2 separate regions of the Homo sapiens genome follow, and region 1 is linked to region 2. The links come from fine-mapping of genetic effects on gene expression. A gene starts in region 2. The other region holds a variant in brackets. All regions are shown on one strand. Distances are between the middles of the regions. Region 1 holds the start of LOC105374517 (a long non-coding RNA gene). Region 2 holds the start of KCNG3 (potassium voltage-gated channel modifier subfamily G member 3).

The links. PIP is the estimated chance that this variant, and not a neighbour inherited with it, causes the effect.
Region 1: its variant is fine-mapped to the expression of KCNG3 in monocytes (CEDAR, PIP 0.95).

What each region holds. Positions count from the first base shown.
Region 1 is chr2:41,976,767-41,992,460 of GRCh38, reverse strand. It overlaps LOC105374517 (a long non-coding RNA gene), which reads left to right and starts at 3,781. Exons shown (of 3, transcript XR_940000.2): 1 at 3,781-5,207; 2 at 6,666-6,772; 3 at 8,751-9,105. RefSeq lists a silencer at 1,758-2,052 and an enhancer at 4,153-4,322. The variant CAA/A (reference allele first, on the strand shown) is at 8,367.
Region 2 is chr2:42,487,139-42,502,832 of GRCh38, reverse strand. KCNG3 (potassium voltage-gated channel modifier subfamily G member 3) reads left to right here and starts at 8,851. Exons shown (of 2, transcript NM_133329.6): 1 at 8,851-9,996. The coding sequence starts at 9,332. It also overlaps a transcript of MTA3 not described here. RefSeq lists enhancers at 7,530-7,824, 9,149-9,906, 9,907-10,664 and silencers at 8,579-8,658, 8,749-8,798, 8,979-9,068.

The sequences.
Region 1 (15,694 bases), 510 kb after region 2:
AACAGGTATTGTGACAGGGAAGGGGTGGGTGGCTCTGAAGTTATGCTGGTATTCCATTTGGCCTGGGCATGGCCTGGAGCTGACCTGACACTAGAAGGTTGTGGGAATAGTGGGGCTTTAGCAGCCCCAAGGATTGGGCTGCTGCTTCAGAGTGCACCTTACAGATGTTGGAGTGAGTGCTCTAGGGTGCATCTGGGGCCATCCCTTCCCCTCCCTTCCCCTCTCTTTCCCTCCCTTTCCCTCCCTTCCCCTCCTCTCCCCTACCCTCTCCTCCCCTGCCCTCCCCTTCTCCCTTATTCCTTTCTCCTGCCCTCCCCTTCCCTTCTTGCCCCTTCCTCTCTCCTCTCCTCCACTCCCCTTCTCCCCCACTTTCCCTCCCCTGCCCAACTCCTCCCCTCTCCTCCCCTCCCCTGCCAACCTCCTCCCTTCCCCTCCCCTCCCCTCTCCCCTCCCCTCTCCTGCCTTCCTCTTCCCCTCCCCTACCCTGCCCTCCCCCTCCTCTTCTCCCTCCCCTCCCTCCCTTCCCCTCCTCCTCTCCCCTCCCCTTCCCCTTCTCCCTCCTTTCCCCCTTGCTCCTCCCCTCTGCTTATCTGCCCTCCTCCTCCCTCCTTCCCCTCCTCACCCCCTTCCCCCTCCTCGGCCCCTCCCCTCCCCTTCCCTCTCTTCCCCTCCCCTCCCCTCCCCTCCCTCTCCTGAGATTTATCAGCTGCTCAGTCTACCTACCATTCTGCATGGAACTGGTGAGCACATCTCAGTCTCCTGACACCTGCTCAACCTTCAGAGGGCTGAGAAATCAGATTTCTGGCTCCTTGAAGCCAAAGGTCAGACCTAGGCTTGTGGCTCTCACTAATGGGTGCATGCCGTGGAGATGCAGCTAGTCTTTCATGCTCCTCTTCCTCCTTTCCCTCCCACTCCTCCTTTTGGAGTTGTGTGCAAAAGGTTTACTGGGGAGTAATATTGTGAAAAGAAAAAGGGAGAAATGGGAGAATCGGGCAGGGACCTTGAGACCACCATGCAGATCTGACAAAGTCTCTCCTGCCTCTTCTCACAAGGTCGTTGGCTTCCCTCCAACAAGTGGGACAAGCAGAAAGGATCACTGGGTGCTGTAGAGCTGAGCTGGGAGAGCCTTGTATTAGAACATTTGCTGAGGGGCTCCCTTAGATGTTTTTCCCCCTTAACTCCAACTCTAGCCAGTGGAGGAGAGGGTGAGACTTGCTCCTTGGACCGAAGTCCATAGTGGAGGCATTCAAAGTTCATGCAGTGAACATTACTGAGCACCTGCTATGTGCCAGGCACTGAGCAGGAAGATGGGCTTACAGAAATGAACTTAGGAAGTTTCCAGGTTGAGGCAGAGGTGGAGGAGAGGCATGATGTAATTAATCACATTACAGTATGGTAAATGCCACAGCTAACTTTACACAGGAGCTAAGGGAGTACAAAGGAAGGAGGAGATAACTGCTTCGTGTGTGTTTAGCAGTTACTGCATGTGTGACAGCGTGTTGTAGGAATGTGTGTGTGTGTGGTGAGTGCATTGCATGTGAGTGTGTAGTCTGTGTAAGTATATGTCAGTGTGATGTGATGTGGATATATGGGTGTGTGAGTGGGAGTATCTGTGGATGATTGTGTATTCCAGTTTGCAAGTTGTGCGTGATGCTGTGGTGTGTGGGGGTGTGTGAGAGTGCGTGTGGGGGTGTGTGAGAGTGCATGTGGGTATGTTTCAGGGATGTGTTGTAGGAATGACCTCAGGGACCACAGCAGCCTTTGCAGAAGGTGTAAGTGCCCCAAGGGAAGGGATGGCATCTGCTGTGCTGGAACCCAGGGCCTAACACAGTGCCAGACATAGGAGATGATCAATAACCCTTTTCTGAATGAACAGCTGCCTCCCCTTTTCTGGAGTGCAGGAAACAGAATCTGTTCTGTTACCATCAGCTGTGGCCTTGACTTCCTTTCAGGAGGCTTTGTCCTCTTGGACAAAGTAAGAGAGCCGTATTTTTTTTTTCTTTCAGATGTTAGTAGCTGAAACTTGAGGGTAAAGGGATAAATTCTTGAAACAATTTAAGTCCTAGTAATGTCCTGCCTCTTTAAATGAGCGTCACTCAAGTCAAGGGTTGTAGTTCGTTTTACTTGGCGTCTATACACTTTTTGTACTTTCTAAATCTTCTAAATTTTTTGAGTCTGAGAAAGGAGTTATTAAAAAAGGAATCTGACTTTTCCATGTGCACTTGTGCTGTAATTGTGTAAAAGCTCTTGAGGTGCTGCCTTGGACCCTTGGGTTGAATTCAGACTGCTTGCCTTCCCCCACCCCCACCCCATTTTCCTGTCCCAACCCGCTGTTTCTCCTTCTGGCCCTGATGGCTCCTGCCATTCTGCCTTTGGGCTTTGTGTCTCAGCCTCTGTTATTTCTCTTCTGTTTGATTGACAGCCCATTTTGGTGTCACATTTCTAGGCTGACCTCTGCCTTCTCCAGCAGAGTGCAACTCTGGGACTTACCCTGGGGCCTCACGCTCTGAGCCAGGCTCAGGAGCCCTCATTTACCCTACGGGCCACAGGCTGGGCACCCAGCACCAGCCTTCCAGGCTCAGGAGGAGGCTGAACAGTAAGAATTAAACATGCTGGTGTCTCTTTTAAAAATCTAGCTTCTCCCTTTGTATTCTCCTGTCTGTGACACAGTACCCCCTTCCTCTCTCTGCTTAGAACTGGCAATTATTCATCATTTATAAATTGAAGATAATCCCATTTCCTGATGACTCCTGCAGATCAGGGGTTGGAGGAGAAGAGTTTCTTAAGAACTTCCATCCCTGTCTACTATTCACAGAGGAAATAACTCAAATGCCTCTATTTCTCAACTATGAACTTCTAAGGTCTGGTTCTTTCCAAAGAGATTTCTGTGTATTAAATCCTTTCATAATGGCAGTAGTCTTCTATCAGATTTTAAACCCAAAGGACAATTGTTCCAGGTACATTTCAAGCTACATATGGCAGACAGCTGTCGGTCAAGACCACCAGACTGTGGGGCAGCAGCACTTCTCTCCCCAGAGACCATTCCTTTCTGTGTTTCCTTTGACCTGGGGTGAAGTTGGAATCGGAGCTAAAATTAGGGCTGAGAGGCAATCTAGGATTTATTGGAGTGGATGTTGGTGTTGAAGTTATTTTAGTTATTTTATTCAGGGTGAGCATCGGGTTAGGGAGGCTGGGGACTTGGATTCAGATTGCTATGGTATTAAAGCACAGTGGGTAAGGGTCCGGTAAGGTTAGGGTTAGGTTGGATTAGGGTTCCATGCAAGGCTGGGGTCAGTGTGTGGTTGCTGTTGGGGTCAGCATTAGGGCTGGATCAGGTGCTTTGCTGGACTGTTGGATGCTCATTGGTGGGGAAACTCCATCTGGGGATTTTGCCACCTGATAGGGTTTGGCTGTGTCCCCACCTAAATCTCACCTTGAACTGTAGTTCCCATAATCCCCAAGTCTTGTGGGAGGGATCTGGTGGGGGGTAATTTAATCATGGAAGCTGTTACCCTCATGCTGTTCTCGGGATAGTGAGTTCTCACAAGATCCGATGATTTTATAAGGTGCTTTCCCCCATTTTGCTTGGCATTCTCCTTCCTGCTACCATGTGAACAAGGAGGTGTTTGCTTCCCCTTCCCCCATGATTGTAAGTTTCCTGAGGCCTCCCTAGCCCTGTGGAACTGTGAGTCAATTAAGCCTCTTTCCTTTATAAATTACCCAGTCTCGGGCAGTTCTTTATAGCAGCATGAGAAAGGACTAACACACCACTCCTCAATGTACATTCTCATGGAGCCAAACCCTTGGTCCTGCCATGCAGTTTTAGGCTGAATGAGGCAAGGGCATGCTGTTTTCCCTCTGGGGTTTGGGGTTTAGGTGCCACGTATTAACTCGTGGGAAGCTTGGCAAGACCCATCCTTGGGGTTCATCTCTTCTGGCTCCCACAGAGGCAGGCAGGCGGGTGAAGGCAGCAGAGGGTTCAGATGTTTGTCTATCCTCCTCCACTGCCAGGAAGTTAGGGTAAGACTAAAGGACTTAGTCTCAGGATCTGAGGCACACAGTGGGCCTGCTGGGTCCCCGTGAGCGTTAATGGCCAGACACAAACTCCTCCTGTCCTTGTACCTGGTGCCCGGATGACCAGTTTGCTCTCTTCAAGCACTTTGAAGAAGTAGCTGAGAATGGCAATAAACTGATTCCGGTCCTCTGTCTCTGTGAAGGGCTAGACAGGCAGCATCTCAGTGCCTTTATGGGCTATTTCTGCAGAAGGACAGCAGGCAGACCCAGATAAAGAGCCCACATGCCCGCAGCCCATTGCCTACCACTGCAGACATCGCCATGGCCTGAATGCTGCCCCTTGGGCTTCTGCTCTTGCCAAGCCCACTGTTCCCCACACTCTAGTCACACCGATGCTACCCTAAGCACCAACCCCAGATGCCTCCATAGCTTTGTGGATGCCACTCATCAGCCTGGAATGTCCCCTCACATGCATCTACAGGGTCCCCTCATCTCCCAGATCCAGCCCTTGTGACACTGCATTGCATGTCTTTGTTTATGGATTAAATGTAGGGACAGTGTCTTGTTCATACCGTATCCCCAGAACCTGGCACAGGGACTGGAAGAGAGTGGATGCAAGGTCAATGTCAGTTAAAAGATGGAAGAGCAGGAAAGACCAGGCCCTCAGGCTAATGCAGTTACATGTATTTTATTAGGACTTAGGTCTTTTTATAGAGCATCTTCAGCTCCTCCATACTTCAAACATCTCTATGCATTTTTATTTGCTCCCGTTTTTTCACTAGTATTGAATTCAGTAAACCTAGCAAGTAACCATATCTAGGTGGTGTGGGAGTATGCAACACTCCAAAGTACATTACAGCTGCAAAGTTGGAAGCTTAAAATGCCTCCTCAACATCACTGACAAACAGAACACATAGATAGAGGGAACCTTTCCTATTTCCCCTAGCCATGCCTTGGCTTTCTGACGAAACTTGACTCCTAGTAAGTTTTATTTATTTATTTTCCTTTAAGAGCTAATATTTATTGTACCCTTAGTATACCTAGAAACTGTTTTAGGCTCTTTTCCCCCATGTATTAATTCATATAATCTGTTCAACAACCCTGTGAAATAAGTACAATTATTATACCTATTTTACAGATGAGGAAACTGAGGACCAGAGAAAACAACTAGTTTTCCAGAGCTCTCACCATTGGTATGTGGCAGAACAAGGATTCAAAGCTAGATGATGTGGCTCCATAGTCCATGCTCTTACTGTTCCTTTCTACTGCTTCCTAAAATATCTCTCAAATTCATGCCTCCTTTTCTCTTCCAGTAGATACCATTTAAACCCTCTTTTTTTGTATTTTTATTTCTATTATGTTCTGAATTGATCTCCCTAGGCATATTCCATCCTTTTTCTTTCTTTCTGGGCACTATAGTCAGGATGACCACTGTGAAAGGATAAATGTCATTCCCCTGTCCCCCGCCCCATTGTGGTGGCTTAGAGATGATGCCTGCAACATCTTCGACATTCTACACATGGGAGTTGGGTTCTAATTCCCTCCCTTGATCCGGGATCGCCTTACTGACTCGCTTGGCCAGTAGCACGCAGTGGAAGTCAATGTCTGGAACTTTCAAGGTAGGTCATACATGACTTTGAAGCTTCCACCCGGGTCTCTTGGGATCCTCCCTCTGAGCCACCTCGTAGAAAGTTTGACTAACCTATTTATAGCAACATACTGGAGAAGCCATTCACATCAGTAGTTCTAAATGAGTCTGGCCCCCCAGCCATCAAGGCACCAGAAATGTAAGCAAAGCCAGCTTCGACCCTCCAAACTAGACCATTTACCATCTGATGCCATCGAATGACCTTCATGGAGACCATAGAAGACATGAATTGCCTAGCTGATCCCTTCACAAATTACCAGCCCACAAAGTTGGGGGATAAAATACAATGGTTACTGTTTCAAGTTGTAAAATGTTGAGATGGTTTGTTGTGCAGTGGTAGATAACTGGAACTTCATTATTTTTTCTTTCTCTCTTTCTCTCTCTCTCTTTCTTTCTTTCTAACTGATACAAGTTTTTGATATCATCACAAGGGATACAGTCATGAGCAAAACATATTCAACCTTGCCCTCAGGGGCTCTGGCATTAAACAATAATACAAATAAATATATTCTTTAAAAGGTATAAGTCATCAGTGCTGCCAAAGTAAAAAGTGCCAAGAGAAACATTAATGGGGAGTCAAATTAGGTTTCCGTAAGGCAGTAATAGTTGAGCTGAGACTTGAAGGATTTAGTTGGATATAGGACTGGGGAAAGGGGTAGGAGAGCATTCTGGGCTGAGGGAAGAGCTGGTATGATGGTCCTAAAGGCTGGAAGTTGCTCGATGCTTTGGGGCCCATGTGGCTGGAGTAGAGTGAGGAGAAGTAGCCAGAAATGAGGCTTGACGTGAGGGACATGTGGCTGACTCTGGTGCACAACTCTCCATGCTGCATTGAAAGAGCTCCACATCTGTGTTCCCTACCACATGGGAGCTCCTTGAGGCCCTGTTCCAAAGTTTTAAGTGATACCTCATTCTAGAACAACAACAAAAAATACACATATTAAAGTAACATTAACCAGTTCCTTCAGGATCTGCCCCATGTCTAACTCTGTGGCCTTGTTCCCAGACATCTCCCTTCCAACTCTTGGCGCTTCTGCTATCCAGAACCACATCAGCTTCCTGAACAGACCAATGTCCACCTGCACCTGGGCCTCTGCATGTCTCTTTCCTCTGGTGGGTTGCCCTTCTTCTAGTGTTGCTTGGCTAACCTCTATGTTTTCTCAGACTTCTCAGCTGTCGCCTCCCACATGGCAAGTCCAGTGGCGCTGGGGGCCTATTTATCTGGGCTCCCATAGTCCCCATGCATCCCTCTGTGGTAGCGTAAGCCACAGGTGCATCATAATTGTGTCCTTGTTGATTATCTTTGGACTCTGAGCTCTTGTAGGAAGAAGTGCCTTTTATCCCCTTAGCTTCTTCCTTTAGAAGCTTTTGACAAAAGTTTATAAATGGAAAGGCCAATAATTCCAGCTTGATATTGTATACAAATTTAGTAAACATGCCATCAGTTTCATCCTCATCACTGATACAAAGTTTGAACAGGGCCGGGCACGCTGGTTCACACCTGTAATCCCAGCACTTTGGGAGGCCGAGGAGGGCGAATCACGAGGTAAGGAGATCGAGACCATCCTGGCTAACACGGTGAAACCCCGTCTCTACTAAAAAGTACAAAAAATTAGTTGGGTGTGGTGGTGGGCGCCTGTAGTCCCAGCTACTCAGGAGGCTGAGGCAGGAGAATGGCGTGAACCTGGGAGGCGGAGCTTGCAGTGAGCCGAGATGGTGCCACTGCACTCCAGCCTGGGTGACAGAGTGAGACTCCGTCTCAAAAAAAAAAAAAAAAAAAGTTTGAACAGAGTAGGACAAATGTGAACACGGAAGCATCTTTGAATCTTCAAATAATCCCTGTCATTTCTTCTTTCCTATTCTAAGAAATTTTATCAAGAGCAGAAATTCAGATGAACCATGTCCACTCTCTTCTCCTAATCCAGCAGTATAAACAGTCTATGAAAAAAAGTGAAATGAACTTGGCAGGACAGAGGAGCCTTTAAAGAACCCACTCTGTGTTCAAAGACCCTGTTGTTCCTTTCTAAGAACCCCAAATGATTTTTAAATCTGTTTTAAAATTTTTTTATACTGTTTAAAAATTTTTAAATCTGTTGAGGCTCAGGTGCCTGTCATGGTTTTCCCACATACCTAGGCTCTATTCCTCATTTTCCAGGGAGTGGCTGAAGATTTCTAAATCGAGAGGGATTCCTTTTGGCTTGAGTGCCGTGCTCAGAATCTGTCAGACCCTTCTCAGGAATGGGACAGCTGTGCACGAAGAGCTCATGAATCACACCCTGCTCCCATGGGCATCTCTTGATACCTTTTGATGAAGAGTGAAAAGCGTTTTGGAAAAAGCTAGCGATGGTTTATATGTAAAGGGAAGGTGGTGTGATAGGAAACAGTGAGAGATTGAGGAAAGAGCAAACCTTGAACTGGGAGTCTGAAGATCTGTGTGTTGGTTCTGACTCTTGCACCACCTTGCTGTATGACCTTGAGCAAGCCCTTATCACCCTCTGTCCTCAGTTTCACCACCTGTGAAAGGAAGGAATTAGAAGAGCTTTCCCAAGGATTGAATGTTTTTTTCCGCAAATAAAATCTTCTGCCTGTGGGTTTTAGCCATTTTAGGGGTCACAAACTTCTCTAGGAACCTGATGATACTGTGGAATCTTGCCCTGAAAATACCCAAACACACACACATGCACACACACACACACACACACACACA[CAA/A]TCTATTCTAGAATCTTGCCTGAGATTGATAGCCTACAGTTACCAGTAACTGCCTCTTCTGTTTGGACAAGTCCTAACCATGTCTGCTCAGCTATAGAATTCCAGCATCTCTCTCAACCTTCCTGATGCATTGAAGTTACCGATCTATTTCATCTACAGGTTCTCGGGGGTCCCTGGAATGTAAGACATGAGCCAAGGGATCCATGTTTAGAAAAGCCTCAGACTCAAGCAACCTTGTTACGTAACTCCAGCTTCTGAACCAACTGACAATATTTGCTCTTTCTGATTTTATATCTTTCCTAGAATATGGAAGCAAAATCGGATTTGACATCGTCCCCTTCCTTCCATGACCACTGATATCACTCCTCTGCTCCAATTACAGCCTCAAGAGTGGATCCACACCTTCCTTCTTCTAAGTGTAATTAAAGAGGCCCTTTGTGCCGCCTTCAGATTTTTTTTTCTTGTCCCAACTTTTCCTGTGCTCTTGTCTCCGTGGAACTATTCATACAGGTCAGTATCATTTTCCTTCTAGAAAATGAGTCCATTGGAAAGCCTCCCGGTTAGCCATAAAACTTGAGATCCCAGGGAAAGATGTGGTCTTTCTTGCTGGAGACTGACTCAGAGATTATTTTCATGAAGCCAAGGAGTTTAAGCTCAGAGCCCCTCCCTTGTTTAAATCCCCTCAAGGACCTGAGGGTAAGAACCCTAGTATTGTGTCCTAGGGGCGATATATTTTAGCAAAGTTACAGAAATCAGATAAAATATATATATATATATATATATATATATATATATATATATATATTTATTTATATATATATATATATATATATATTTATTTATTTATTTATATATATTTTTGGAGACAGTCTCTCTCTGTTGCCCAGGCTAGAGTACAGTGGCATGATCTCAGCTCACTGCAACCTCCGTCTCCTGGGTTCAAGCGATTCTTGTGCCTCAGCCTCCCAAGTAGCTGAGATTACAGATGTGCACCACCACGCCTGGCTAATTTTTGTTTTTTTAGTAGAGACAGGGTTTTGCCATGTTGGCCAGGCTGGTCTCAAACTCCTGACCTCAAGTGATCCACCAGCCTTGGCCTCCCAAAGGGTACAGGCATGAGCCACCACGCCTGGCCCAGAAGTCAGATATTTTAACCATGACCGCTAAGATGTCTGTCTCTTTCCACTCTGATTTCCTTGCCTTCACATTTCTGTTTGTGCTGAGTGGCCTTGGAGGGCCTTGGAGATTTGCTGGGATCCAGCTAAGCGGAAGTTGAGTGTGGGATGCTTTTAGTCTGGGTTTAGTGAGATGTATTTATGTGGCCTGCAGTCACTTTAATGGGTATTTAAGTTGTTGCTGGCCATCCACAATGGGAAGGGCTCGTGGGGCCTTCTCTGCACTACCTGGCATGGAGAGGTGCATGGCTGGAGGGCATTTCACATCATGAGTGTGTCTTTTTGCAACCCCATTTACCCAATATTTGGGTAGTAAAAGGGAGACCAGGTTTGGAATGTATAGAACTGGTATGAGTTTCTTTCCTAGGGCCATTGTAACAAATTACCACAAACTGAGTGACTTAAAACAACGGAAATACAATCTCTCATGGTTCTGGAGTCCAAGAGTCTGAAATCAATGTGTCGACAGGGCTGCACTCCTCTCAAAGGCTCTGGAGAAGAATCCTTCCTCTTCTCGTTCAGCATTTAGTGGCTCTAGGAGTTCATTGGTTCGTGGCTGTGTAGCTCCAATCTCTGCCTCCGTCTTCACATAGCTGTCTCCTCCACGTTCGTGCCTTCTCTTCTGTTTCTTCTAAAGATGCTGGTCATTAGATTTAGGGCTCACCTGGTAATCCAGGATGATCCCAAGATCCTTAATTACATCTGCAGAGACTCCTTTTCCAAATGAGATCAAATTCACATGTTGATGGAGTTAAGATGTGGACATACCATTTTGGGGGCTATCAGTCAACTCACTTCAGAACCATAAGCTAGTCCAGGAATTTTTTTTTTTCATTAGAAATGTAAAACTGTAAGTTATTGGTTCTTAACAATGCCAAGTCAAAATAAAAATTCTTTCCTTCCAGGAATATAGTCAATTATAAATGCATCAAACATTTTTTTTCTTGATGTGAAATATGATTTCATCAGAATTCATGTGTTTGTAGGGTAAAAATTTACAACAATCCTGCACACAGCTAGAATGCTTACCTATAAGGTCACATGTTTATGATTTTCAAGTTATCACTGAATCATATGAACAATATTAAATTTTGTGCTGGTTTGAGATGAAATACTGACAGTAAGACAATATAAAACTCATAATAAACTACAATGAGAACATCAACAAACTAATGACTATTGTCAATTAAATAATTTTTAGGATGAGTCACTGTGCAAGAAAACTTGACATGCCCTGAAATATTATAGCTCATACATGAAAGGACCTCAATAGTGGTTTTCCCAAATATGACAATCCTAAAAACGTATGTATTACCAATATTAAGTTATGAAGCTGAAAGAAATTCTTCTCAACCATCAATAATAGAAAACAAATTTTGTCCAAGCATGCTAGAAGAAAGTTATTTTTCTTTCCTTCCTTCCTTCCTTCCTTCCTTCCTTCCTTCCTTCCTTCCTTCCTTCCTTCCTTCCTTCCTTTCTTCTTCTTTTTTTTTTTTGGAGACAGAGTTTCACTCTTATTGCCCAGGCTAGAGTGCAATGGTGCGATATCGGCTCACTGCAACCTCCGCTTCCTGGGTTCAAGCGATGCTTCTGCCTCAGCCTCCAGAGTAGCTGGGATTACAGGCAAGCGCCACCATGCCCTGCTAGTTTTTGTATTTTCAGTAGAGACAAGGTTTCACTATGTTGGCCAGGCTGGTCTTGAACTCCTGACCTCAGGTGATCCACCCACCTTGGCCTCCCAAAGTGCTTGGATTACAGGCATAAGCCACTGTGCCTGGCCCGAGTTATTTTTCTATACCCTCTATAAAAAACGATACCACAAAACCTTTGATGTAAGAGGAATCCATAAAAGAGTACACAGCAAAACAAATACATTTTTCCCTGAAAGTATTATAGAGGTATGTCAGGAAGTTAATTAATAAACATGCCATTTTTCTGGGTTTTGTGATATTTATCAGCTTAAACATTTAAAAAATGTAATTTAAAAATGTTGTGAATGATTTCCTTATTCTAAAAAAATACACAGTCATATCTAATTTTGTATTTGTAAACTTGCCTTCTTTTTCTTAAAGACCACCCATCAGGTTATACCAACAACAGGCCCAAGTCATGAAACCTGGAGCAGCCTTGGGTTTGAATGCTTCCTTGATTTTATTTCACTGCCTCTGTGGGTGACTTGCCCTTCATCAACTAGCCCTTTTCTCCCTTGCCTCCTCCATCTTTCCTTCCCTCCTGGTTCCTTTGCACATATACACATTCAGCTTGCTCCCAACCCACGCACATTTCTGTCTTTGCAGTTACTTCTTCGTTGGCTATTCCTCTTGCTGCCCAAGAAAGACAGTCGCTGCCTCTGCTCTCTCATCCCACCCTGTCCCCATCCTATTAAAACTGCTCTTTGCAGGGTCACTCACATCTCCTTACTAATTGAAGCACCTGGGACAGCTTTGTCAGGTTGGGTTGACCAGCGTGCAATGGTTCGCTCACTCCTCATTCGGGGTCCATGCATACTCTTAGATCTCCTCCCCTTCATTGCATTTCAAGTGTTACTTGTTCAGCATCATTTTCCCCAAACACCAGATCCTAGCACACAGCACGGAAGGAAAGAGGAATAAATAAGAACCAAGTGCCCACTATGTTCCAATCCCTGTGCTTGGCATTTTCATATATTTTGTTGATTTTCATATACCTTCACTTAATCCTTGCAGCAACCTGGATATAGATCATATTAATTCCCACTTTTAACCAGTTGGAAAACAGAAGACCCAACCAATTGGGAAATAGAAGTTTCAGTAACTTGCTTAGGATTTCACTATTAAATGACATAGGGCCGTGTTTGGATTCAAGGCCTGCCTGTTTCACTTTCAAGTCCACACTTTGTCTGCTAAGCTTTTCTGTCTCTGGATTGCTTGGGGAGCAGGGACACAACTATCATTTTTCAAATAGAATTAACTGACAGGGCCGTCCTCTTAAAGCTCGTCCACTGACTTTGCTGATGCTATACTTTCCTGATTCTTCTGTCTCTCATTTCTTGCTGCCTTCTGTAGTTTCTTACTCTCAAATTCAGCTCTCTTCTGTCCATTCTCCCCCATGCCTCTGCTGTCTACTCAGATAGCTTCAGCAGTCATTTCTTGGAGGATGACTTCAACTGCAGAATTGCTAGTAGGCGCCAGGCGCGGTGGCTCACGCCTGTAATCCCAGCACTTTGGGAGGCTGAGGCAGGCAGATCGTGAGGTCAAGAGATCGAGACCATCCTGGCCAACATGGTGAAACCCCATCTCTACTAAAAATACAAAAATTATCTGGGCCTGGTGGCATGCATCTGTAGTCCCAGCTACTCAGGAGGCTGAGGCAGGAGAATCGCTTGAACCCGCGAGGCGGAGGTTGCAGTGAGCTGAGATCACGCCACTGTACTCCAGCCTGGTGACAGAGACTTCATCTCAAAAAAAAAAAAAAAAAAATTGCTGGTAAGATTTCCGGTCCAAGCTCCAGTCTTTCTTCTGTAACTGTCCACCCATAATCTTCTCTCCTCTCCAAACCATCTGCTCCTGAGTTCCCATTTTCCCAGTCACACATACTTTAAACCTGGGGAATGGGTGTCACCTTTGTCTGTTCCTCACCTATTTAGTTCATTCAACAAACATTATTGTGTAGGTATTCTGTGCCCTGCACTATGCTGGGCCCCAGAAATTCACTGATGAGCAAGACAGAGTCTTAATCCTCAGGGAGCAATATTCTAGTCATAGTCAATTGATACCAACTCTACTGTGTCCCATCCTTTGCCTTGTCACTGCTATTTTCCTTGTTCACGTTCTGGTTGGCCTGGTCTTATTGCCTATGGTCTCCATGCAGTTTCCTTCCTATTCTTTAAGGATAACAACAAATGATTATATTTTACCCTCTGTGCTGAGGACATTGTCTCTTTTATGGTTCCTTGGGAAACTTCTAGTCCCTTGGTATGATTTGGAGTTCATTCTGCGTCTGCTAGCCACTTCTAGGGTGGATTATTTATCCATCTTATGGTGAGTCTGGTGAGTTTCCATTTTAAAGGTTACACTGGCCCTAGGCATTGGCCAGTCTAAATTGCATTTATAAAGGATCCTCAATCGACGTTGATATGGTCTGACTGTGTCCCCACCCAAATCTCATCTTGAGTTGTAATCCCCATAATCCCCAGGTGTCGAGGGAGGGAACTGGTGGGAGGATGGATGGATCATGGGGGTGGTTTCCTCCATGATATTCTTGTGGTAATGAATGAGTTGTCATGAGGTCTGATGGTTTTAAAAGGGACTCTTTCCCCTTTGCTCTGTCTTCTCTCTCCTGCCACCATGTGAAGGAAGTCCTTGCTTCCCCTTTGCCTTCCACCATGATAGTAAGTTTCCTGAGGCCTCCCCAGCCAGGTGGAACTGTGAGTCAATTAAACCTCCTTCCTTTATAAATTACCCAGTCTCATGTATTTCTTTATGACAGTATGAGAGAGAATTAATACATGTCTACCTCCAGCTGTCTCTCTCCAGCAGAATTCTACCTATCCTTCAAGGCTCTGTTCAAGTACCTGCTCCACTGTGGATTCTTTCCAGATCATCCCCATGCCCAACTGAATGCCATTTTCCACTTGTGGAGCTTTCTGTTGGTGCCTCTGGTTTTCAGCAATTACTGCACTGTACTTTGTAATGTAGAATTATGTCCCCTACAAGAAGGCAAGCTCCTTGCAGGTAGGGGCTTCTCTTTGCTCATTTTTGACCTTCTGGCTATCGAGCATTGTGCCTTGCCCATAGCAGGTGCTAAACAAATGTTGGCGAGTTAATGTATTTTCTGTAGGTCTCCCTTTCTTTCCTATTTAGCTCTGTGTCTACTCTCTGGTTCTTCTTCTTGCCTTTGCTCTGGCGCCATTATTTCTGTTTCATCTCATCTTCACAGAATGTTAGCTTTAAGAGAACTTACAGATTCCCAAGTCGAATGTTTCCTGTACTAGGCTGATCATCAGAAATACCTGGTAGTTTTTAAAACTTATTTTTATGTAAAAAATTATATTGGAGGGCTGGGCGCAATGGTTCATGCCTGTAAATCCTGGCACTTTGGGAGGCGAAGGTGGGACGATCACCTGAGCCCAGGAATTTGAGACCAGCCTGGGTAACACCAAAAAGATCCTGTCTCAACAACAACCAACCAACCAAACAAACAACAACAACAAAAAACTAGCCAGGTATGGTGGCACATGCCTATAGTCCCAGCTACTTTGAAGGCTGAGGTGGGAGGATCACTTGAGTCCAGGAGTTCAAGGCTTCAGTGAGCTATGATATGATTGCGCCACTGCACTCCAGCATGGGCAACAGAGCAAGACCTTGTCTCCAAAAAAAATCCCCAAAATACAAAAAACCCAACCAAATATATTGGTATATATAGTATAAGCAGTAAAGGAGTACAAATCTTAAGTGTGTAGCTGGGTGAAATTTTACACTTTTGTAACTACTATCGATATCAAAATGCAGAATATTTCCAATATGGAGAACATTCCCTCATGTGTACTCCTAGTTTATATCAATCTCCTCAAGGTAATTGCTATTCTAACTTATCTCATAATAAAACAATTTCATCTATTCTAAAAGTTTGTGTGTATATATATATATATATATATATAGTCTTTTGTGTATATATATATATAGTCTTTTGTGTATATATATATATAGTCTTTTGTGTCTGGCCCTTTTCTTTCAATGTTTTTGTCTGTGAGATTCATCCATGTTGCTGTGTGTATCTGTAGTTTGTTTTCTTTATTGCTATATAGTATTCCATGGTAGAAATCTAGCACTGTGTAGCACTGTTGATGGGCATTTGGATTGCTTCCAGTTTGTTGACTATTACAAATAAAGCTGCTATAAACATTCATGTGCATGTTTTTTGGTGGCTACCTGGTGGTATTAGTCAGGGTTCTCCAGAGAGATAGAACCAATAGGATCTATCTATCTGTCTGTCTGTCTAACTATCTATCTATCTATCTATCTATCTATCTATCTATCTATCTATCATCTATATTTTTAAAAATCAGTACTTAAAAAAAATATATATATGTGTATATATATATATATATATATATATATATATATATGAAATAAGGAATTGAATCATGTGGGTATGGAGGCTGACAAATCCC
Region 2 (15,694 bases):
TGCCACCATGCCCGGCTAATTTTTTTTTTTTTTTTGAGACAGAGTTTTGTTCTTGTTGCCCAGGCTGGAGTGCAATGATGTGATCTCAGCTCACCACAACCTCCGCCTCTAGGGTTCAAGTGATTCTCCTGCCTCAGCCTCCTGAGTGACTGGGATTACAGGCATGCGCCACTACACCGGCTAATTTTGTATTTTTAGTAGAGACGAGGTTTCACCATGTTGGCCAGGCTGGTCTCAAACTCCTGACCTCAGGTGATTCAGCTGCCTTGGCCTCCCAAAGTGCTGGGAGTACAGGCATGAGCCGCCGCACCCGGCTGGATTGGGACCCCTTTCCAATAACAATAATAGCTAAGGAAATTAGAATCATGGCATGTTATTTCCCTATAGAAAGTAAAGATAACATCTGCACATATGTCCCTGAGTTGTTTTTCAGAAACCCGTACCTCCACCAAACACATCCACTGGCACACAGACCTCAGATGGCGGACTAACAACTGAACTCAGACTGCCATTCTTTGTTCTAAAATTCTTCCTGAGGGTCCTGGAGGAGGTCACACTTGCAGGCCAGAGCCAACGTTCTTTTTTGCTGATCCCAAATTTTTAGACAAAGCTTCAACTCCTTAATCAATTGCAAATCAGGAAATCTTTGAATCCATTTATGACCTGTTGGCCACCCCCAACACCCCCACTTTGAGATGTCCCCCCTTTTCAGGTCAAACCAATGTATGGCCTCCATGTATTGATTTATGACTTTGCCTGTAACCTCTGCCTTCCTGACTTTAAAAACCCTTACCTGTAAGCCATCAGGGAATTTGGGTCTTTTTTAAATTTAAATTTTAATTTTAATTTTTGAGATAGATAGAGTCTCACTCTATTGCCCAGGCTGGAGTGCAGTGGCACGATCTCGGCTCACCTCAACCTCTGTCTACCAGGTTCAAGTGATTCTCCTGCCTTAGCCTCCCCAGCAGCTGGGATTACAAGCATGCGCCACCAGGCCCATCTAATTTTTGTACTTTTAGGAGAGACAGGGTTTCACCATGTTGCCCAGGCTGGTCTCAAACTCCTGACCGCAAGTGATCCACACGCCTCGGCCTCCCAAAGTGCTGGAATTACAGGCATGAGCCACCGTGACCAGCTGGGAATTCAGGTCTTAAGCATGGGCTGTCCGATTCTCCTTGCTTGGCACTCTGTAATAAATGCCTCACTTTGTCTCGCTGCAATCCTGATGCCAGTGTTTGACTTTACTGCATTGGGTAGTGGACTCAAGTTCAGTTAGGTAACTTTAATGTTACCTAAATGTTAAGTTTAATGAAGCTACAGTGTTAGGAGTGGGTTGGCTGACAATACAATAATGGCCTCCATGCCATATGCAGGGAATCAGAATATGCCTCCCAAAATATGCCATTTTGAGGTAAGGATTATTTTGAGCTAAAGGCAATTGAGAAGAATCAGACATAAGAAAAAAATTATGCCCTCCTCTTCTCTACTAGGAAAGGAAGAAAGATTCTTAACCACTGGAGACCCTAGCCTCTTATCAGCCTAGAGATAGGACCAGAGGAATCTATGTAATGCATAATGCATCTTATAAAACAACACTTACCTTCTGTTAGTTTCCTGACATGTTTACTTTCCCATAGTTTGCCACCCCTAAAAGCCTAAACTCCTTTTCCTTTAGCTGGTTACTTCGTAGCAAATTTATTATTCTTTATTAAGATGCTATACAGGTCACGCGCGGTGGCTCATGCCTGTAATCCCAGCACTTTGGGAGGCGGAGGTGGGCAGGTCATGAGGTCAGGAGATGGAGATCATCCTGGCTAACACGGTGAAACCCCGTCTCTACTAAAAATACAGAAAATTAGCCGGGCGTAGTGGCAGGCACCTGCAGTCCCAGCTACTCGGGAGGCTGAGGCAGGAGAATGGCGTGAACCCGGGAGGCAGAGCTTGCAGTGAGCCGAGATCACGCCACCACACTCCAGCCTGGGCGAGAGTGTGAGACTCCGTCTCAAAAAAAAAAAAAAAAAGCTTCATAAAGCCTCTTGATTTTGATACTAACAACCCTTTGATTTTCTCGGTGTAATGTACTATGCTGTACTTGTTAATAAAGTGTTTCTAATAAACTGTGTTTCTCTTGTTAATTTATCTTTTGTCAGTCTAATTTGTAGGAGCATAGGCCAAGAACCTAGGAAGGTAGAGGAAAAAATTTTTCCCCTCCCTTACACATATTTCTTGCCTCAGCCTTAGATATCTGAGAACTTTTACGTTTTTTCTTGTATCTCTCATTTCTGTTTCTCTGTTTATTTTTGAGAGAGCCTCTGTCACCCAGGCTGGAGTGCACTGGCATCCACCTCCCAGGTTTAAGCGATTCTCCTGCCTCAGTCTCCTGAGTAGCAGGGACTACAGGCACGTGCCACCACACCCAGCTAATTTTTTTTTTGAGATGGAATCTCACTCTGTCACCCAAGTTGGAGTACAGTGGCGTGATCTCGGCTCACTGTAACCTCCGCCTCCCAGGTCCAAGAGATTCTCCCGCCTTAGCCTCCCGAGTAGCTGGTATTACAGGCGCCCACCACCACGTCCAGCTAATTTTTGTATTTTGAGTACAGATGGGGTTTCACTATGTTGGCCAGGCTGGTCTCGAACTCCTGACCTCAGGTGATCTACCTGCCTCAGCCTCACAAAGTGCTGAGATTATAGGCGTGAGCCACCGGCCAAATTTTTGTATTTTTAGTAGAGACAGAGTTTCACCATGTTGCCCAGGCTGGTCTCAAACTCCTGACCTCAAATGATCCACCTGCCTCTGCCTCCCAAAGTGCTGGGATTACAGGCATGAGCTACCATGCCCAGCCATCTCTCTCTCTCTTTTTTTTTTTTCAAAAAAGAAAACACTTTATTGAGGTATGATTAACATACAAAAAACTGTACATATTTCATGTATACAACTTCTTGGGTTTGGAGATGAGTATACACTTTTGAAACTGTCATCACAATCTATGCCATAAACATATCCATCACTTCTGAAAGTTTCTTTCTGTCTTTTTATTATTCCTTTTTTTTTTTCCCTCTGTTGCCTAGGCTGTAGTGCATTGCCTTGATCTCAGCTCACCGCAACCTCCGCCTCCCAGGTTCAAGCGATTCTCCTGCTCAGCCTCCCCAAGTAGCTGGGATTACAGGCATGCATCACCACCCCGGCTAATTTTGTATTTTTAGTAGAGACGGGGTTTCTCCATGTTGGTCAGGCTGGTCTTGAACTCCTGATCTCGTGATCTGCCTGACTCGGCCTCCGAAAGTGCTGGGATTACAGGCATGAGCCATCATGTCCCACTATTCCTTTTTTTGAAATGATAAGAACACCTATAAGATCTACCCTCGCCGGGCGTGGTGGCTCACGCCTGTAATCCCAGCATTTTGGGAGGCCGAGGCGGGTGGATCACCTGAGGTTGGGAGTTCAAGACCAGCCTGACCAACATGGAGAAACCCTGTCTCTACTAAAAATACAATATTAGCCGGGGTGATGGTGCATGCCTGTAATCCCAGCTGCTCAGGAGGCTGAGGCAGGAGAATCGCTTGAACCTGGGAGGCGGAGGTTGCGGTGAGCTGAGATCGCACCATTGCACTCCAGCCTAGGCAAAAAGAGTGAAACTCCGTCTCAAAAAAAAAAAAAGATCTACCCTCTTAGCAAATGCTTAAGTATGCATTATAGTACTATTGAATATAGGTACTATGCCACATCGTAGATCTCTAGGACTTATTCATCCTATATAACTGAAACTTCATACCCTTTGACTTATACCTCCCTGTATTAGAGCTCTGTAAACAAGACCACTCTGAATCTTGGGATAACCTCATAGTGCTATTGAGTTACAGCTCTACCTTTGTAATCTGAGAGACGAAAATAGATGCCCCTTAATAAACTAAGACAGACCCTAAGATAAGGAAACCAAGTTACTGATGGGTCAAGGGCTCAGGGCTTGGCTGGCAAATTTCTAAATTACTGTGGCTAAACTCCCTAAAAATAGGAGTTTTCAATTCTGTTATACAACCCAGATGACAACAACTCTGTCTGGATAGACAGCCATTACAAACATTCTTTTCTGATGAGCTGCTGCAGACCCCAGGTCAGTTTCAGCCAGCTTACAGAGGCAGCACACAAGCTGTCTTTGTGGCCTGTAGTTCACCTGTTGACATAAAGAGCCAAATTCCACCTCATTTTAATGCTAAAGCCCCATCACAAAGTGAACACGATGTATGTTACATATATGTGTACCAATTATGCATGTGTGCGCCTCCCCCGTAAGTATGTATAGCTTTTCCCCCAAGCCTGCTGACTATGTATGATACAGGCCCTGTGAGGCCTAAAACCCAACCTGTTATTTCCCTCTTTGAAGAGAGAGCACCTTCAGTCCACACCGGAGACTTTCTCTTCCTGGCTTGCAAACTGATAACAACAATAAAGCTCTCCTTTCTACCATTCAGCCATCCTGGTGGTCTTCTGAACACCTTCTACAGGGGTCATTCTGCACACTGGGCTAAGTCATTAGCCTTTTATATTTTAAAATGAGAGAAGTTTCCATTTGAATTTCCATTCGAAAAGCTGTCTTTAAAAGTACCAACTGATTCGGCAGAGGCTGAGAAATAAACTGATGTAAATGCAAACATTGAAAAATATGAATTAACAGCAGGGCAAGGGCTTTTTAAAGCAGACAGAGTTGATAAGTAAGCTGCATGGAACAGTAGTGCCCACAGGGTATTTCAATTTCTAAAGCTTTGGGGGAAACGGTGTTTGGAGTCCTCGAACACATCCAGTTATGCAATGCAAAGTGATGGAGGAATCTGTGTTCAAGCCAGAGTCAGCAGTAAAAGGGTCACAACTTTTTACTGAATTTTTTGTTTCAGGTTACTCTGTTGTTGGTCACATGTTTAGACAAATCAATTCACTTATCCAATCTGTGTTTATTTAGAACCCAGGAATGAGAAATGAGCATGGCTGATTTGGGCTAAAGGAAGCATACATGAAGTGAGATGTTTCTAGTGTCATGCACTGAGCTATATACCACCTTCACATCAGCTTGTGATCTTTTCATTACCCCTTTGGATGTAGGTATTATTATCTTCATTCTACGGAGGAGAAAAACTGAAGATCAATGAGGTTTAAGGAACTGGCTCCAGGTGGCTTAGCAAATGAGTTATACAGCCAGGGTTTGAGCCTAGAGAGAGCCCTATAGACAATCTGGACTTTTTTTTTTTTTTTGAGATGGAGTCTCGCTCCATCACCCAGGCTCAAGGGCAGTGGAGCGATCTCGGCTCACTGCAACTTCTGCCTCCCGGGTTCAAGCGATTCTCGTGCCTCAGCTTCCTGAGTAGCTGGGATTACAGGGGCGCACCACCACGCCCAGCTAATTTTTGTATTTTTAGTAGGGACGGGGTTTCACCATCTTGGCCAGGCTGCTCTCGAACTCCTGACCTCATGATCCACCTGCCTCGGCCTCCCAAAGTGCTGGGATTACAGGCATGAGCCACCGCGCCTGGCCAATTTGGACTTTATTGTATGGACAATTTCTAATTATCTACTTTTATATACTCCTTTTAGGTTTTGTTTGTTTTGTTTTTTTTTGAAAACCTCTAGTTTCAAGAGGAGTTTTGCTCTTGTAGCCCAGGCTGGAGTCCAATGGCACAATCTCAGCTCACTGCAACCTCTGCCTCCCAGGTTCAAGCGATTCTCCTGCCTCAGCCTCCCCAGTAGCTGGGATTACAGGTGTGCACCACCATGCCTGGCTAATTTTTTGAATTTTTAGTAGAAACGGGTTTCACCATGTTGGCCAAGCTGGTCTCGAACTCCTGAACTTGGGTGATCTGCCTGCCTCGGCCTTCCAAAGTGCTGAGATTACAGGCGTGAGCCACCACACCCAGCCACCTTTCAGGTTTTTGAATTTGGGAATGCCCTGATGAAAATGGATGGAAGGAAGAGCTCTGTGGTGGCCTTATTCAGAATTCATAGAGATAGGAAAGAACTGGAGTGCAAAGAGATGAGGTAGAAGGTTGTGGCAGCAATCCAGGCCCTGGAAACAGAGTGAGCAGAGTTTGACATGAGAAAACCTGATTCTAGCCTCTGCCAGGATGCTGCTGCTGGGAATGCTCGGGCTAGTTACAGCCACATCTCTGAAGCTTTGTAACTTCGGAGGGGAGGAAAAAATGGGAGTAATTTGCTTTTTTTTTTTTTTTTTTTTCCTAGGTTCTGAAACTAGAAAACCTCTAGGTTCTTTCAAACTCTAAAATTCTACCTTTAAATTGTAATGCATTCTAAAGATTTAGATATGAAGACCCTAAATACCATCCCGAGTCTAGGAGAGAATCTGGATGTAATACTTCTCAACATTATCTTCTCAAAGTACAAAGAATAGAATTGGCTTTAAGAATGCTCTCTAAACCAGATTATATTGAGACAAGCCTATCATTTCTGCATCACTGTTTTCTTTGTTTAAGAAAACGATTTGGGTATTGCTGCTGCAGCAGTGGTTGATGATATTAAAATCAAATAAAAATATTACTCTTGAAACAAATGAAATGATTTAAGCCTATCTCTCTAAGAAATCGCATGAAAATATACCTAGGAGGCACACATTGTATTGTCATCAAATTAATTTGTTTTCTAAGCTCAAATGTAATTTAAAATGAGATATTTCTTCAACTGGTTCAATCAACAGACAGTAGAAGGATTCTACGGAGAGAACACAGGAAATAAACCCTACAATAATGTTAGAGCAAACAATCGGCACTATAGTTCTGTCTTCTATTGCTTGTGATGCTTCTAGAAAGTATTTTTTAACGGCTTCCTGATGAATTGGCTCTTGGTATCAAGCCAGGCTCATCTCTGGCTCACATCTGCAAACTTTTCCCCATCCTCACGTCCTACAACAAATCCATCTTCAAGACCTGCAAAGTTCTTGGTCTCAGCGTTTCTCAGAACAGACCCTTCTTCATCTTCACAGACACGGGGTTGGGGATCCCATTCCTGGGTTGCGAAATGACCTTCTCCTTAGAATGACCCAAAGTGCAAAGGCATCTTCCTGAAATAAAGCTTTCATCAAGCCATTTCTGCTATGGAAACCTCCAGGGATTCCATTGCTTATGGGATCCAATTTAAATGCTGCAGTTGAGATCCCCATTGTTTCAGTGGGCAAGTGCATTATACTTCTTCACAGACTTTAAACCTCCACATTCGAGATTTTGCTACTAGGAATGTTTTGCCCTTTCTCTGTGCCAACTCATGGCCATCAGCACCTCCAATTCTGTCTTGAAACTCACTTTCTTACAGATATTTTTCTTGTTTAATATCTACTTAGTAGATACTAAACAGCAAAGTAGCAGTATCTACCCAGTAGACACTAAATAGCAAAATAGATACTGAATAGCAAACTATTTAGTAGATACTAAAGTAGCAAATAACTCCTGTTTTTGAGCTTTTAATCACATTTAGTGCTCTTAAGATAAATTATCCAAGTCTGGGGATAAACAACTCACAGAGATTTTCATTCTTTAAGAAGCCACCGAGAGTGATTTTACTTAAAAGACAGCACTCACATTTTCAGTTGTCTGCCTTTTCACTAGGAATCCACTTAAGAACCAGCGCAAAAGGACTCCGTTTGGCGACCTCTAGCGGGCACCGGACAATCCTACAAAATTACGAAAAGTAGAGGGCAATGAAAAACTCTTCCCTTTAACCAGCCAGGTTACCCTGTGGTCAGATGACCGCATCTCACCCTACCCCACCCTTATTTTTTTCTTCTAGTATTTGTTTTGCATCTAACACGGTTCGCCTTACAACTCACCTGTCTCGCCTCCGGCGGGCTGGGCTGCCGGTGTCGGGTGTCAGGTGAATGAATTGCTGGTAGCAGTTTAAAATAATCCCTGCCAAGTGGAACCCGCTTTCTGGGCACGGACAAGAGCGCGGGGTAGATCGCTCTGCGGAGCCTTCACGGGGCTCTTCCCGCTCGGAGGGCCGGTGCTGCAGCCGGGTCAGGGGTGCGCGGGGGAAATCAAGATATTTTGAAAAGGAGGATGCAGACGAAGACCAAGAGAAAGGCTGTTTTTGCCGGTGACAAGGCGTTCCTCCCCAGACTTTCATCCCACTCTAAGGGCAGCATCTCGAGAGGGTCCAGGCGCGCTACACGTTAGGCGCCTTCTCAGGACTCGCGCCCCAGAACGTGGGGGCCGGGGCCGGGTCGGGGACCGCTTCCCTCCGCGGGCTGGCAGGCGGCACCGAGGCTGGGGGATGGGGCGTGTAGCCGCCCTCTGAGCACGCGGTACGTGGGTCGCCCCGCGCGGCGGTAGGAAGAGCAAAGTCGGCAGGAAAAGCCGTGGCTGGGATGCCTTCCCTGAGAAATCCTTAGGGGCGATGTCAGAACCCGAGCTGGGCTCCGGACAGTTTCTGGAAAAAGCTCTCCAAACGCCGTCTGTCCCCGCACCCGAGTCCACACTGGGCTTTGAACCAGGGCTGTTAAAAGGGGCCCTGGGGACTGCCCAATTCATCCCGATGGCCCAGGGCAGGACGCGGGAGCAGGCATCCCGGCGCTGGGCTCCCCGCTCCCCCGCCCTGCGGACCCCTCCCCGCCACTACGGGCCGGAGCGGAGGGGGAGGACGGCGTCACGAGGCGGGGAGCCCGAGGTCCAGGGCGGGGCGCCCGGGAATCCCAGCCCGAGCAAGCCGGGGAGGTGCGGGCGCGGGCGGGAAGCGGAGGGCGGCGCGGAGGGAGGTGAGCGGCGCGCGCGGAGCCGGCGGGCGAGGAGGAGGACTGCACAGAGGCCCCGCCCCCGCCGCCGCGAGCCGGCTCTTCGCCGCCTCCGAACCCGCTCACTTTGCCTCTCGCCTCTGGACGGCGGCGGGGCGGCCGCCGGATTCGCGGCCGCAGGGAGCGCCGGAGACGGGGAGCTATTCCGCCCCGGCGGCTCCATTCGGCGCCCGCAGCCCTCAGGGGGTCGGCCCCGCGGCTTGGGAGAGGGCACCGCGGCCTCGGTGTGCGCAGCCCTCGGGCGCGAGGGTCGGCGGCGCGGACACAGCCGCGTTCCCAGCCGGTGGGGCTCAGCGCTGGCGCCGGCGAGGACTCCCCGGCCACCCGCAGGTACCGCCGGGCGGAGGGCGCGCTACTAGCAGCGCCGGAGATACTCGAGCCCAGGGACCCCCGGGCCAGCGGAGGGCAGGAGCGGAGCCCCGAGGGAGCGCGGGCCCCGACGGCGCGCTCCCCCGTCAGCCACGGGCAGGCAGGCCCCGCGTGGCGGCTTGGGGTGGGGGGCTGCAGCGGGGCCCTCGGGCCGAAAGTCCCCCGGGCGGCCAGCCATGACCTTCGGGCGCAGCGGGGCGGCCTCGGTGGTGCTGAACGTGGGCGGCGCCCGGTATTCGCTGTCCCGGGAGCTGCTGAAGGACTTCCCGCTGCGCCGCGTGAGCCGGCTGCACGGCTGCCGCTCCGAGCGCGACGTGCTCGAGGTGTGCGACGACTACGACCGCGAGCGCAACGAGTACTTCTTCGACCGGCACTCGGAGGCCTTCGGCTTCATCCTGCTCTACGTGCGCGGCCACGGCAAGCTGCGCTTCGCGCCGCGGATGTGCGAGCTCTCCTTCTACAACGAGATGATCTACTGGGGCCTGGAGGGCGCGCACCTCGAGTACTGCTGCCAGCGCCGCCTCGACGACCGCATGTCCGACACCTACACCTTCTACTCGGCCGACGAGCCGGGCGTGCTGGGCCGCGACGAGGCGCGCCCCGGCGGGGCCGAGGCGGCTCCCTCCAGGCGCTGGCTGGAGCGCATGCGGCGGACCTTCGAGGAGCCCACGTCGTCGCTGGCCGCGCAGATCCTGGCTAGCGTGTCGGTGGTGTTCGTGATCGTGTCCATGGTGGTGCTGTGCGCCAGCACGTTGCCCGACTGGCGCAACGCAGCCGCCGACAACCGCAGCCTGGATGACCGGAGCAGGTACTCCGCCGGCCCTGGGAGGGAGCCCTCCGGGTAGGACGCACTGCTTCTCTACCCGTCCCGTCCGTCCTGTCGCGTCTGTCCGTCCCGTCCATACGTCCCGTCTCCGTCCTGTCCGCCTCCGGGCGACCGAGCCAGCGGGGTGCGCGCCCAGCGAGGCCCAGGCGCGGCCAACTACGGGACCGGTCGGTCCCCACTCCTACCCCGTTGTCCGGGGCACCAGCGGGGTCTGGCCCTTACACTAGACGCACCTCTTGAGGGCGAAATCCTCAGGCATGGGGAGGGGCGTGTAGAGATAGACAAATGTCCCCTCTTTGTAGTTTACTTTTGCGCAGAGAGCAACCTGCTAATTACATTTTTCTGAACTTTTATTGTTAGGGTTCAACAATTAAGCCTTGAACTAAGCGCAGTTTGAATTATTTGCCAATTTTTGGTAGTGTTTGGAAAGATGGATTCTTGTTATGGTGAAATGTGCACTCTCCACACATTCTATACACTCTGCCCCCGGCATACTATGTGCTGTAATGGAATCGTTATATTATAAAGCAGGTTAATTTATCGATAGACTCTAAATAATGGATGTCTGTGCCCTTTTCTTCCCCCTTTTCCTACAAAGTATGGAGTTAGCAAACCTCTTGTCCACCGTTTGGTAGCAAAGATTCACACTGCGACTTTCAGAGGGTCTATGATATGGGAAGGGAAAAAACCATTACCTTGAGAACAAAGAAAAATCTAAACTGTCCTAAATCCAGAAAACAGTATTTGGGTAAATTTTTTTTTCTACTTTACTAGGATGAATGGGAAAATATTGCAGTCTTTTCTTAGACTGTCTTACCTTGAAGTGGTGATAGCACTTTCCTGTTTTTAGTACAAGTGAGCATATTCAGTGGGAGGAATAAGCAGACTAAGGATGGACTTTCAAAGAAGACAGCCTTTTGGGGCACAAAACCCAAACTGCATATTATAGTTTATCTGTTTGACACTGTCTTAAGATCCTCCTTCCATTCATTTTTTAAATTTAAGGTTGTGCCCTGTCATGTTTTACTGATAGGCATGTACATGTTCGGAACGGCGGCCTTGCTATTGCAGTGGATTACTTCTACATAATATTCTTCCTGTAGGGAGTAAGGATTTTTATATAAATCTAAGAAGTAAATAAAATTGTCTAGTGCCACGGAGTCTATTATTTCTTCTTGGCTTGAAATCGAAGATACATGCTTTGAAAGGAAATTCATTAGGAAACTCATTTTGTTTAGTGAATTAGGTTCTAACAGTTTTGAATTTACAGATAAGAGTTACTTATTTGGTTCTCCAACAATACAATGAAATTAATTTATTTACCTAAATACATAAATGCCTTTTTTTTTTAAGGAGGGCTTTAGGAAAATGGACTTGGAATTTTGATTCTCCAGTAACTGTAGAATTCTAAGGTTAGTGAAGGTTTGAGCTACATTAGCAAAGGAAACAGGAGAATTGAATTATTATTAGTGCAGATAATGAGGGAGTTGACTGAACCAGTATATGAGCAAAACCAGTAAAATACCTCAAATATAATCTTAGGGGGAGGGAGGGTGTTTTGGGAGAGGGAAAGGGCCATATGGAGATCATTAATGTAAAGCATTTGTAAAGAAATGAGAGAAATGCATAGTAATTTTAGGGAGAGAAACACAAGAAACAAAAAAGGGAAGACAGAGATGGAAAAGAGGGAGACTGCAAAAGAAGTGAAGGGAGAAAAGTAATGCTTATTTGTGTATATGTATTTTATGTATGTGTATAATTATTCAAGTCAGAGCTGTTTCCTAGATACTTAGATATTTCAGGCAAAAGCATGTTTTTCTTAGCTTAATGGCCCAGTTTTAGCTTCACTGTCTGAGTGTAGGTATATGAAAACCAATATCTGCAATCCCAAACAGATAAACTGCAGGATGGCCGAATGAGGATGCTGCTCATTACAGAGGAAGCTCCCCTCTGCCCTTCAACAGAGAGGGCCCTTAACCTGTCACTTTAAGTATAGTCGTTAAAACCCTGCTTGCTTGTGGTTGCTGAAATTAGTCTTTCTAAAACATCATTCTCATTATTTGACCATATTTTGCATCTGCCAAATAAAGCCAAAACTTCTTTCTTGGCCTTCAAGGCTCTTTACAGTTTGATGACAACCTGCCGATCTTGACTTACTCCATCATAGTTTGCAAACATCTTTTGAATATCTGTTATGTTCAAGGCACTGCTGGTGTTCCAAATATTGTAACTTTCTGTTGTAAAGAAAAGTTGGTGTCAAGTTGGTGGTGTAGGAATCAGAGGCACAATTGATCTCTGAGAGTTCCGTTGTTCAGAGAAGGCCTTCAGGGTGGTGGAGGATGGAAACAAACCATGGTTGGAAGGTTGCAGAGGTTGTGCACTGCCCAAACTAGCAGGGAGTGTCATTTATTTTATTTTATTTTATTTTTTGCATTTTTAGTAGAGATGGGGTTTCTCCATGTTGGTCAGACTGGTCTCGAACTCCTGACCTCAGGTGATCCACCCGTGTCGGCCTTCCAAAGTGCTAGGACTACAGGCGTGAGCCACCGCGCCTGGCCAGGGAGTGTCATTTATATAAATTCTAGTTAATGCAACCTGTACAACCATATGTGCCCTGCCTGGGAACAAAATAAAAGAGATTTTTTAAGATAAAAGGAACATCGTGGGCAAGAAACTTGTATATGAAGTTTATGGAAGCGTGAGTCCAGTGATGGAGTGAGAGGTGGATAGAGAGCAGATGACAGAAGGCCTTGAATTCCAGGGAGAATAATTTTATTTTGCAGGCAGTGGCTAGCCATTAGCCAGTTTTGTGTTTAGGGTAAATGGGTTATGCATATAAAGTAGTACATGTGGTACATGTGTTCTGTGATTTGGAGAGAGGGAAGATTGTACACAGGAAGATGAGTTGGAGATCTTCCCAGAGGGAGGGGATGAGAGCTTGGATGGCTTTGTGGTGGTGGAGAAATGGAGGAGAAATGACAACTCTGGAAAATACCAGGAAGAGTCAAAATTAATCCAGGGCATTGGAAGGGCACAGGCATCAGGGACTGATGAAGTGGACTTTCCAGGAGTTAACAGTATCCTCTGCCACTTGCAGTCTTCATTTGTCCAGCCTGGCCTGCTTACTTCTTCCTGAGCCACTCAAATGTCCCTTACTGTGCAATGCCTAGCCTGCTGAAATTGGATTATTCATCAAGCCCAATTCAGATTCTATTCCTCTCTTGAAGCATTTACTGATCACCCTAGTGGATGTGATGTTTCCTCCTGAACTCCTTAAGGAATTGCTTATTTGTACTATTTATTTGGCATCTATGATATCCTTCTTAGCGTGATGGTTATATTTTCATATAAACATATCCTGGCTCCTAAGTTGGATTAGATAAAAAGTCCTAGAAGGCAGGTAAATTCTCTTATACTATTTGTTATTAAAACATCTTTTATTTTGTATTTTTGTTGATTGATTGAGAAGAGATCTCACTCTGTCACCCAGGCCGGAGTGCAGTGGTGCGATCAAGCCCACTGCAGCCTGGAACTCCTGGAGTCAGGTGATTTTCCCACCTCAGCCTGTGGAGTAGCTGGGACCACAGGCATGAGCTACCACGCCCAGTGAATTAAGAACATTTTTTGTAGACATGGGGTCTCACAGGCCAGGCGTGGTGGCTCACGCCTGTAATCCCAGCACTTTGGGAGGCCGAGGTGGGCAGATCACAAGGTCAGGAGTTCGATATGGGGTCTTACTATGTTGCCCAGGCCTGTTGTGAACTCCTGGCTTCAAGCAATCCTACCACCTTGGCCTCCCAAAGTATTGGGATTACAGGTGTGAGCCACTGTGCCCAGCTGAAATACTAGGAAATAATTCTTAGTACTTGCCAGAGTTGTCATTTCTCCACTACCGCAAAAATTGCTATTCAGGCACCATAAATATCTATTGTTTATATAACATTTCAAAATATAACCTTCCAGAACTATATCTTCTATTGTATAATTTAAAATGCTGTTTGGGGCCAGGCGTGGTGGCTCACGCCTGTAATTCCAGCACTTTGGGAGGCCGAGGCAGGCGGATCACCTGAGGTCAGGAGTTCGAGACCAGCCAGACCAACATGGTGAAACCCCGTCTCTACTAAAAATACAAAAATTAGCTGAGCGTGGTGGTGGGTGACTGCAATCCCAGCTACTCAGGAGGCTGAGGCAGGAGAATCACTTGAACCTGGGAGGCGGAGGTTGCAGTAAGCCGATATCACGCTACTGCACTCCAGCCTGGGCGATAAAGTGAGACTGAGTCTCAAAAAAAAAAAAAAAGAAAAGAAAATGAATAAGGTCTATCAGGAAACAGCCTGTTGTCCCAGCTACTCCAGAGGCTGAGGTGGGAGGATCACCTGAGCCCAGGAGTTGAAGGCTGCAGTGAACTATGATTCAGCAACTGCACTCCAGCCTAGGCAGCAGGGAGACCCTGTCTCAAAACAAAACAACAAAAAAATCAAGGAACAATTATTTATCAAGTACTTAATGGTACGAAAGGAATAAAGATAAGAGTATGGTTTACTTTTATGAACCTCCGAAATTTTGGCACAGTGCACAATCTAAAGTTTGGAAGAAATCTTAGGTCTTCCAAAGCAATATTTTAGAACTTTTTATGTATGAGGATAATCCTTTTAAATTGATTTGTTTTAGATGGTTAATAATCATATAAAAACGGTTCAAAATCTAAAAGCTACAAAACTAAGCCTTTCTCCATTCTTCCAGCCATTCAGTTCTTTTCCCTAGATGTAACCAAAGTTACTAGTTTTTGGTTTGTCATTTCAGAGACATTTTATATATTTGTAAGTACATTATATATATTTACAAAAGCCAGAAATACAGTGTAATACACAGTCCTGAAACTTGCTTTTTAACTAACAGTGTGTCATGTAGATCATTCCATGTGAGTCCAAGAGCTCCCTGATTCTGCAGCTTCGTAGTATTCTACTGTAGAGATGGCCCATAGTCACTATACATTTATGTCGTTTCTTGTCTGTAGTAAACGCTGCAGTGATTATCCTGTTCATATATATTTTACTTCTTTTATGCAGGTATATCCATAGGATACATTCCTGAGAGTTAAATCATTGGGTCAAAGGAGATATGCACTTGTAATTTTCACAGATAATTCCAAACTACTCTCCAAAAAGATTGTACTGTATCAATTTATGCTTCCACCAGCAATATAGGAGAGAGCGTGTTTCTGCATACTCTGCAAAGTATTTGATCTTTACTATGCTGAAAAGTGAAAAATGGTATCCAGTAGTTTTGTTTTATTTTGAGCAAGATTTTGCATCTTTACATATATTGAGGAGTCATTCATCTTGCTTTTAAAAATGAGATATTTATACCTTTTTCTGGTTTTGTCAATGACTTTCTTAGTTTGAAGATTAAAAATAATATTAAGGTTGCAGTGAGCTGAGCTCACGCCACTGCATTCCAGCCTGAGTGACAGAGCAAGACTCCATCTCAAAAAAAAAAAAAAAGAAAGAAAAAAAAAAGAAATTAGCTCTTTTTATGATATTAGTTGCAAATACTTTGTTTTCTAATTTAGGACCCCATTAAAAGACAACTACAATTGCCTAAAACATAGTAGCTGCACTTTCACTATCTATTTGTTGAGCAAAAATGCATAATGATTAAAAAAAATTGTGAATTCTTTTTTTTTTTTTTTTTTGAGACAGAGTCTTGCTCT